3 linked regions of the Homo sapiens genome follow. The protein of the gene in region 2 interacts with the protein of the main gene of each other region in a pairwise test. Each region holds a gene or a part of one and is shown on either strand. Other genes may lie near its edges.

Region 1 (3,657 bases), about 18 Mb from region 2:
ACACTACATCCACTTTATAATCTTTTCGGTATCTTTTCAGTAACTTTGGTTCTCATCATCCCAAATAGAAATGAAATTAAATATACAGCTAAGGATCCCTAGAGAGGTTGGTACTCCACTCACTTATTCACTCATTTATTCAACAAACCTCTTGTGAGTGTGTACTCTGTGCCAGACACTACAAAGGGCTCTGAAAAGTCAAAGATGGACCAAACTCAGCCCCCTCACCAGCCCCATTCCCACAACCACTCTGCATGGAGCTTAGGTCCCTATGGCTCCGCATCTTTGAGCTGAAGAAATGAAGCCCAGAGAAACCCCACAGCCAGCCCATGGCAGTGTTGGAACCAGAGGCCACAACTTCTGACCTCCAAACCACACTCTTCCCCATACATCAAGCTAAGGAGAGTCTGCTTTCCTGGTCCACTGTCATTGTAAAGGAGCTTTATTTGTCCTCTTTTTGTCAAAACAAAATAGGAAGCAAGGACAGTGAGGAAAGAATAACCTCTGCCAGCTGCAACTGAGAAAAGATTCCCCTGCTAAAAGCAACATGAGGTCCCAGGGAAAATGTTTGTCACTTAAGTCAACTGCAGGTAAGGGAAGGAAGCATTTGGGATCAGAAATTGGACAAGTTATTTAAAGTCTTTCAGCCACCCCTCCTACATCCATGAAATAAGAATAATAATGTATAGTGAGCCGTAAACACTCCAACTGCACTCCAACCTGGGCAGAAGTGAGACCATCTCAAAAAAAAAAAAAAGAATGCATAATAGCTTCTTATAGATCAATGTGAGTAGATACGGAAGCTATCCAAGTTTTATCATTAAATTAAAAACCACAAGTTGCAGAACTGCATATACAATGTGATTCCATTTCTATTCAATTTTTTGTCTGAAAGAAAACACAAAAAAACCTTGTGACAGTGGTTACCCCTAGAGATTAGGAACAAAGGAGTAGAGATATTGGAAGCCTTGATTTTCTCCTTTACATCATCTTCTACTATTACATTTCTTACCATAAGCATGTATTATTTTTAATTCTTAAAACAAAGAAAAATACTATGAGTATTTTTCTTACACTGAGTATTTTTTAAACAGAAAGAAAAATGCTATGAGAAAAATACTATGAAGAAAAATTCTATGAGTAAAAATACTATGAGAAAAATACTATGAAAAATTAAATGAATGGTACACATAATTAGTACACTTTTCTATGTGTATATTATACATCAATAAAGAGTTTTTTCAAAAACTGGAGTAGGTCTATGTGCTTAAACATGAAGAGATTTCATAGATATAGTAAATGAATTAGCAAATCATTGAATCTCCAGAGCATGAAATTCTAGTTCTGCAAAAAATCAAGAAACTATATGCATACACATATAAATGTATATGAAAAGATCTGCAAGTATATACACACTTAATAACATATTCTTCTATATGGTTGAATTTTTTTTTACAACCAGAATGCTTTTACATACATTTTGAAATCTACATTCTTTCTCATTTTAAAAATGATAACACTTAGGCTGGGTGCCGCAGCTCACGCCTGTAATCCCAGCACTTTGGGAGGCTAAGGTGGGTGGATCACTTGAGGTCAGGAGTTGGAGACCAGCCTGGCCAACATGGTGAAAACCCACCTCTACTAAAAGTACAAAAATTAGCCAGGCATGGCGGTAGGCGCCTGTAATCCCAGCTACTTGGGAGGCTGAGGTGGGAGAATCGCTTGAACCCAGGAGGCTGAGGTTGCAGTGAGCTGAGATCTCACCATCGCCCTCCAGCCTGGGTGACAGAGTGAGACTCTGTCTCAAAAAAATAAATAAATAAAATGATAACACTTGACCCCAGAAAGCTGTTGTGAGGTTTACATGATTATGGTTACATGACACTTTATGTGATATAAAAAAGAATCATTACTTTTTTAAAAAAATTATCAATTAGTATGCACCACAGACCCCCTTTCCCATACCTTCCTTCTACCCTGTTCAAGATCTCATCTCCGAGTCTCACCATCAAGCCTAGCTCAGGAATGAAGTAAAGGTCAGGGATGGGGCAGACATGAAGCCTGGAGTAAGGATCAAGGATGGATAAAATAAGAGGTCAAGCATGCAACAAACATGGTTTAGCCAAAACAAACAAACAAACAAAACCCACCTTTTCCGTTTTAATTCAATCATTCTGAAACACACAGAAACATTTCCCTCATCCAAACCACCACATTAAATGTCTTGCTTGGGTCCGGTATGAGTTAATACACATCCCCATCCCCATCTGTGCGAAGACAACAACTCCTTTGTCCGTCAGTGTTTGTAGTGAACCTTACACGCCAGGGGAGCATGTCCCAACCACTCTGGTCCACACTTGGTATTCTTTGACCATGCACTTAATCCAAGGACCACGAACTACAAAAAAGAACCCCATCATAGATAGAGACTTATTCTATATCTTATCCCACCCCCTGATGCTTCACTATCTGCTGCCTTACTTGTTGTTTCTTGTGTGTTACCTCCCCCAAATGTAAACTTTTTCAACAGAAACATGCATTAATGTCATCTTTGACCTAGTATAGATTATTGAACATAACTGGACCTGAAAGCTCTCTACAGGTGCTTGTTCATAGATGGATGTCAAAGATGTCCCACGGCACAGTTCACAGCTGGCAGTTGCTTTCCACACCAAACCTGGAGCAACTCAGTTGTCCTAACTTTCTCCCACTACTTCCTTCAATTCTTTCTGCCAATGCCATTCCTTGGAATAAAGCCTAGAATGCCTTACTAGGGTGCTACTTAGCCCTGGAAAGCACCAAGTAAGGATCTGTATCTGGTTTGTCCATCATTACCTATCCCTTGAGTAATGCCTTAGGTACTACTGAGTCCTGGAAAGCACTCTCTCCAGACTCCAGCTACAGATCAATCCAATTTGTCAGAGATAAGAAAGTAGTAGTTTTCCCCTCTCAATATTTCCTTCATTTCCTCCAGAACTTTCTGTGCATCTGGTATACTGTCACATAAACTTCAACTTCCTTATAACATGCCTGTCTATTTTAAGAAATTATGCCAGGCAATGTGGGTAGTTGAGGGAGTAGGGAGGGGCTGAACAACTTCTCAAAGGTATTCCATGACAGAACACAGAAGGCTGGACCACTGCCAGTTTCTGGGGAAACCAGGACTGAAGGGATTGGCAGTGGACCGAGAGGCCACTCAAGGGGCTGACCTTTAGGAGTATGTCTACAGTCAGAGTACAAGTTGGCTAGGGCTACTACATCCAAGGGCACAGACTGGGTGGCTTAAACAACAAAAATGTATTTCCTCACAGTTCTGGAGGCTGGAAGTCCAAGATCAAGGTGTCAGTGGGGTTGGCTTCCTTTGAAGGCAACTCTCCTTGGTTGGTAAGTGGCATCTTCTCCATGTGTCTTCACATGGTCTTCCCTATGTGTCTGCATCCTCATCTCCTCTTCTTATAAGAACACTGGTCTTACTGGATTAGGGCCCATGCATGTGACCTCATTTTACCTTAACCCCCTCTTTAAAGGTCCTATCCCCAAATATGGCCACATTGTGAGGTACTAGGAGTTAGAACTTCAACGTAGCAATGTTGGGGGACATAATTCAGCCCCTAACAGTCAGCAACAGGGAAAGAGGGAGAAAGGAGGTATGACTGT
Region 2 (3,657 bases):
ACGGTGTCACTCTGTCATTCCACCCAGGCTGGAGCGCAGTGGTGCAATCACGACTCATTGCAGCCTCAACCTCCTGGGCTCAAGCAATCCTCCCACCTCAGCCTCCTGAGTATCTGGTACTACAGGAATGTGCCACCATGCCTGGCTAATTTTTATTTTTTGTAGAGATGAGGTTTCACTGTGTTGTCCAGGCTGGTCTTGACCTCTTGGGCTCAAGTGATCCTCCCACCTTGGCCTCTCAAAGTGCTGGGATTATAGGTGTGAGCCACTGTGCCTGGCCTGAAGTGCTATTTCTTTAACAGCTGCTTTTGGTATCAATACCCTGTTGGTTATTAGTTTAAAATTTTAGTCAATGATGCTTTTTGGGTGGGTGTGAAGGGGGAAGAAAATCTTGAGCATGTAATGACTTAAATTGTTTCCCAAATCAAATTAAATTCTGGGCCAGTATAAGACCTACACACTCACATTTCACAAGTGAGGGCATGGATGGGGGTAGGGGCAGGCAGGGAAAGGAGAAAAGAGGACAATCAGCACCCCTGAGGGGCTGAACATAGGGGGCATCCAAAACGTGCTTGCTGTGGGAAGAATGGCCTCAGGAAATCCTGACCCAAATCCTGCACACAGTGTGGGCAGATCTCACCTATTCTGTTAAAGGGTCCAATCATTTTTTGTTTTAACCTGAAGGATTTAAATTGAAGTAGCATAGGTATAACTTATGAAGTATTCAAAGTGTCCTAGCTTACTCACTCTCTCATTTTTTTAATTTTTAATACCGTTAGCTGTTTTTTAATAACTGGCACTCAGATAGTGTATAATTATTCTACTATACATGTCTCCGGGAAAAAAAAATTCTTTCTCCATGTGGCGAGGCAAGGAAGTCTTCGTGTTCCACCACCGCAGGCTGTTTGGCAGGAGTGGTCTGTTTAATGATCTCCCCCAGCTGTGCTCACTGAGTCAGTGAGCTCTGCATCTGCCTCTCTGTCTGCATGTTGTCTGGGCTGTGATCCATGTGAGGAGTGCAGATTAGTGGGGAGGATAAACAGCATCACTTCAATGAGACGGTGGAGCCAGAGGCCTGTTTTTTATCTTATGATGGTGTGCAAGCTTCTCTCTAGCAACGTAAGTTCACTTTTTATGTCTTTTCCTAAGAGGGCTATTTTTTCCAACATAAGTTATAAGTGGGCAACATATAAAGCAAGGCTGGCACCTCATATTGGGGTACTCCAGACACCACCAGGTAAGAAACTGGATCATTAGTACTAGTTAAAATGTTTAAAGATCATAACCTTTGACTAGTAGTCCCACGTTCAGAAATTTATTCTTCAGAAATAAAAGCATCAGCAGAAGTGAACATGCTTATGAGGGTATTTACTGCAGCATTTTTTGTAGTGGCAAAAACCAACAAGGAACAAAACAAAACAACATCCCCCTGCCCCACTAAATAAAACAAACAAAACAACCTGAATGTCCATCAACAGGGGAAATACTGAACCAGCTATGATATACTATGAGGTATCAGGCAGGATACCTCATAGTAGGAGAAAATGAATTAGAATTAGACCTATTATCCTGAAGAGAAGTCATAAATGTCATTGTTTTTTAAAGCACTCTGCTGAGTAACAGGTATCGTATGGTAAAAATTTCTGGAAAAAGTCCATTATGTGTATATGTGTAAGCTTTGGTTTGGCATGCCCAAAGGCACAGAAGGCTGCATACTTTGTTCACATTGGTTACCGTGGGGAGTTTACATTTTTTTTTAATCCAAAATCTCTGAATTGTTTGACTTGTTACAACGAATATATTTTACTTTTCTAACAGAAACAAATCCAATAAAATAAATTCAATCATAAGGAAAAAGTTACAAGATTAAGCTGAGTTAACACCTCTGCCAAACAAACCAGAACAAAACCACTTAAAAATAAGAGAACAAAAGAAACTTCTGGTTTCTTTTGTTGCTTTTTCAAGGCAATAATGGCCATAAAATTTTCCATAAAGTAACTAGAAAAATAAAAACTCTTTTTCTGGGGTTCAATTTAAAAGGAAATAATGCAGATATAAAATTTTGAATTTATCTAATTTAGGCATATTTAGTTCATAACAAGTAGCTTCTATTTGTAACCTTGAATAATATAACCATTTAGATAAATCACTATTTTATTATTTTAAAAATTTTTACTTATCAGAATCTGAGGGTCATTGGGGGAAGCAGTTCTTCAGAAGTGGCAAAGACGACAAGAGATAATTCTCCCAGTTTCTTTCAGCCTAATTATGCTTATGTTCAGCTCTTTTAAAAAGATTATTGATTAACTCTCTTGTTAAAGGTAATGCCTCCACATGGTCTGAAATTCAAAAGGGAGCAAAATGCATACAGTGAAAACCAGGTTCCCTGTTCTCTCCTATCCAGTTCCTTCATAAAAGACACACTTTGTACCACCTTTTCATACATTACTGTACATTGCATTTGACATTTAACACAAACAATAGCTAAAATAACATAAAAAGTATCCTGTATCTTGCATTTTTCACCTAATAATATCTTGGAGGTTGGTCCAAAGTAGGGGATAATAGGTCTCCCTCCCTTTTAATTATCACACAATACTCCATTGTTATGGATGTACTATAATTTATTTAAGCAGTCCATTGACATTTATTTCCAATATTCTGTAGTAGAAGTCCTTAATCTAGAGCCCAAAATGGGCCCTCTAAGCTCTGGATATTGTACCTTGAATTGTGTACACATGAGCTAATGGCTATTTTCTTTTTTTTTTTTTCCTCACAGCTCCAAACAGTCACTGAATTAATGGCTATTTTCAAGGGAGAGAAAAGACTCTCAGGCTATGTCAGATTCTCAGAGTTTGGTAATCTGGAAAGGGTTAAGAACTTGCTGCCATAATTCTATCACAGACTGCTCTTGCTTCTACAGAAAAACAAAAAACAAAAAACACGGAGCATCTTAAGAAGAATCTCCTATCTGAATCTAAGACAAGAAAATGGCATTTTTGTCTACTTTTATTTGCAGTGATGGCATTTTTGTCTACTTGTATTTGCAATGTTTATTCTGTCTTCCCTCTACCCCCTCACACCAGCACCAATTATTCCACACCTGCTGGTGAACAAGCAGAGGCCTCTTTACACCTATATCCGCATGGTCTTCATTACTGGATTGAGAAAAACACTGATGATGAAGTAGTTTTCCGCCCATTACCTGTCTCTAATAATATGCTTGTCATCACAATTAGTTTCACCATCCCTGGCTTGCTTTTCTGTCATTTCTTTCCCTTGAGTTCTGTTAATAGCAGAAATTGGCTGCTAAACTATTATTCTGGTCTGTGTAATGGGGCTGATGGCAGAAACATTCTGCTTCTTTTGACAACTGGGTATGATTTGTAAAGGTGTGAAGAAGAATTGCTAATACTTCTGGGCTCCATTACATTAACCTGGAAGGCATTCTACCCAAGAAATGAATCCAATATTAAATTGCCTGTTTTATGAGTTTTTATTTAATAATTTTTCTAATCTTTACAATGTTTTCATAGCTTCAGTATTTTCAGATCTCTATTTCCTGAGATTAATATGGCAACTTCATTTTATGAATGCTATTTTATTAGATTTTCTTTATTTTTGAGGTAAGAGAAACGGAAGGGAAGAGTTATTTGT
Region 3 (3,032 bases), on a different chromosome or scaffold from region 2:
CATGGCGTTATCTTTCTGTAAAGTCCAGTGTGGGTGAAGCCTTAGAGGCCAAGGTCGTGAAAGGATCTACTGGAGGGCTGGTGCCGGGCGGGAGCAGAGGGACAGGAGGTGGAGGAGGTCTTCTTGACGGCAACACACAGAAGGAGACATTTGTACCTTTATTCCAGTCATCATTCAATGTCAGGTTGGAGCCAGAAAATGAACTTGGCTGATTACCCAGTAAGTCTGAACAAGCTGACTTTGACTTCCCTTTCACACCAAAATCCTCTTCTTCCTCGAAGGTTACCCATCCTTTCGGGTTGCTAATTTTTAATGTAGACTGGCCCTGTAGATCAAAACTGTCCTTAAAGCCATCAAGTGAAGATGAAGCCCTGCTTTTGTTATGACCAAGAGGCTGCAGAGAAGGGAAAGGACTGATAGTAACGGGCTCTTCTTTGGAGAACCATGAAGTTGCCTCTGATTCTTCAGACTTGGCTCTAAATGGGTTTCCAGGAGCAGCAGTCCTGTCACTGAAAGGATTTGTCCTGGTCAAGCCAGTAATAAATGGGTTTGGAGAACTTCGCATATTTTCCTGGGATTGACTCCGAGCTGGAATTGGAGGCATTGTTGGCATGCAACTTACAGAACTCAAAACATTACTTTGCGTTGCAGAAGGCAACTGAATCAACCTCTTTGGGTCTGGGGTGGGAACAGGTGACGTTTGAACAGATAGCTGAGCCTTTGATACAGCAAGCAGATTAAATGACAGATCTTCAAATGGGTCAATCTTTAATGGTGATTCTCTTTTGCCATCAGAGATTCCATTTGTTTTTACCTGCAAAAGAAAGGGAGCACTGAAAAATCAGTTTATATTTACTCTTAATACCCCCTATTCTTCCTGTCTCAATTATTCTTCCCTTTTAGGGGCAAGCATGTAAATTTAGAAACTAAAAAGTAGCTTTGTGTAGTTTGTTACTCCGGTGGTTTAAATAACATGAAACACCTACAGTCTTTAAAAACTTCTTTCTAAATAAATCCTTTCTAATTAAATCCATTTTTAAATCCCTCAAAATCAAAGAGCTTATTTCATTCATGCAAGTTTTGAAATGGTAAGAAGGAGAATTGTACAGAATTAACAAATTTGTTCATGCCCAGTTCTATCACATTTCAGCATGAACTTAAGAAATCCATACTTATAACTTATGCTAAATCTATATAAATAAAATTCTAACACCCATCTATGATGATGATGTGGTTTCATTGTTCTTTTAAGTGTGTTTTCTAAAATTAATGTTACTATGGAAATTCAATTTTATAGATAAAATTAATTCTATTAGCATATTTTATTCCTAAGACGAAGACTCCATCTTTCTGTCTTCTACTTGGAAAAATAAATTTTGAGAGTTCTTTGCCCACCCCCTCTTTTTTTTTTTTTTGGAGACCAAGTCTTGTGCTGTCACCCAGGCTGGAGTGCAATGGCACGATTTTGGCTCACTGCAACCTCCACCTCCCGGGTTCAAGTGATTCTTGTGCCTCAGCCTCTTGAGTAGCTGGGACTACAGGCGTGTGCCACCAGGTCTAGCTAATTTTTTGTATTTTAGTACAGATGGGGTTTCACTATGTTGCCCAGGCTGGTCACAAACTCCTGAGTGCAGGCAATCTGCCCACCTTAGCCTCCCAAAGTGTCAGGATTACAGGCGTGAGCCACCATGCCCGGCACAGCTGACTTTTAATGTAAGCTCTCCTTTGTTGAATAAACTGAGTAATGTGAGGCTGGGCGCGGTGGCTCAAGCCTATAATCCCTGCACTTTGTAAGGCTGAGGCAGGTGGATCACCTGAGGTCAGGAGTTCCAGACCAGCCTGGCCAACATAATGAAACCTGTCTCTACTAAAAATACAAAAAATTAGCTGGGCATGGTGGTGCGCGCCTATAATCCCAGCTACTCAGGAGGCTGAGGAAGGAGAATTGCTTGAACCTGGGAGGCAGAGGTTGCAGTGAGCTGAGATCGCACCACCGCACTCCAGCTTGGGCAAGAGCAAAACTCCGCCTCAAAAAACAAAAAACAAAAACTGAGTAATGTGACAACTTTCCATAAAAAAATTGACCCTCCTGTCTTGTAAAAATATTCCAAAACAGATACACTATTAGTAACCAAATGCAACCATTGCTTAAAACCAGAGGAAAAAAAGTTCCATTTTCTATTTGGTTTATGAAGTCTACAACCACAATGATGTGCCTAGAGTGGTGCCTGGTCCCTTCTATGTGACAGAGTTGGCTGTGAACTGTTATCAGTAGGAAGAGTGCTTGGAATTCCTTCACTCCTGCCCTAAATCCCTTGGTCCCTACTCCATAAAGAAGGTGGTTGGAGTGGAGCACAGCCAAGGGACTGAGCAAAGACAAATGATCGGATGAAGGAAAAGAACTATGATTCTTGCCTCATAAGCAAATTAGCTTATCAGGCATACATTATTAATTTTGAAAAAAATGTATATAATTCTTAAAACTAGGGTAGATGACTTGGACACTTATGCTAACTTAAGAAAACTTCAGGGTTGGATACGATAGGGCAAAAAAAAATTCAGTTCAAGACTGGCAATGTAATAAAATGAGCACTGCCCAAAAGGAATTTGGATAGTTGTTAAAGCAACATAACTATACTTTCATGAAATATATTGGAAAAAAACAGCAGCAGTCTCAATAAAATGTAACTGCATACTATGAAACACTTAGTTACTGCTTAAGAATATGGAAGGATGTTCACTTGTAAAAGGAAATGGATGACTTAAGTGAATAACTTTCAAGTATCTGTTTTATTCAACTATCCTAGAATATGCTTTATAATTGGTTGAAACAGTATATTTTTCTTCAAACTTAGTGTGATAAATTTGTACAAAACTAAAGAGAAAACATGTCACAGACTTTAAACTGTACTCTAAATGTCTTAGGTAAGTAGACCTATATGTGGAAATGTACTTAAAAGGAAATTTATATAGATATTATAAAATTAACTCTATATTACCAAAAATCTCTGGACTATTTATAGTTAATACAA

Evidence for each region.
Region 1: the proteins of SH3D19 (region 2) and SH3RF1 interact in a two-hybrid assay, tested with the Homo sapiens proteins (one large-scale study listed by BioGRID).
Region 3: the proteins of SH3D19 (region 2) and SYNJ1 interact in a two-hybrid assay, tested with the Homo sapiens proteins (one large-scale study listed by BioGRID and IntAct).

The regions. Positions count from the first base shown.
Region 1 is NC_000004.12:169,260,862-169,264,518, forward strand, and holds part of SH3RF1 (E3 ubiquitin-protein ligase SH3RF1), read right to left. Parts: intron 1-3,657. UniProt on the Homo sapiens protein: Has E3 ubiquitin-protein ligase activity. In the absence of an external substrate, it can catalyze self-ubiquitination. Stimulates ubiquitination of potassium channel KCNJ1, enhancing it's dynamin-dependent and clathrin-independent endocytosis.
Region 2 is NC_000004.12:151,168,453-151,172,109, forward strand, and holds part of SH3D19 (SH3 domain-containing protein 19), read right to left. Parts: exon of another isoform or gene 2,780-3,657; intron 1,120-2,779; exon of another isoform or gene 957-1,119; intron 1-956. UniProt on the Homo sapiens protein: May play a role in regulating A disintegrin and metalloproteases (ADAMs) in the signaling of EGFR-ligand shedding. May be involved in suppression of Ras-induced cellular transformation and Ras-mediated activation of ELK1.
Region 3 is NC_000021.9:32,630,988-32,634,019, forward strand, and holds part of SYNJ1 (synaptojanin-1), read right to left. Parts: intron 834-3,032; coding exon of another isoform or gene 8-833; 3' UTR 1-7. UniProt on the Homo sapiens protein: Phosphatase that acts on various phosphoinositides, including phosphatidylinositol 4-phosphate, phosphatidylinositol (4,5)-bisphosphate and phosphatidylinositol (3,4,5)-trisphosphate. Has a role in clathrin-mediated endocytosis.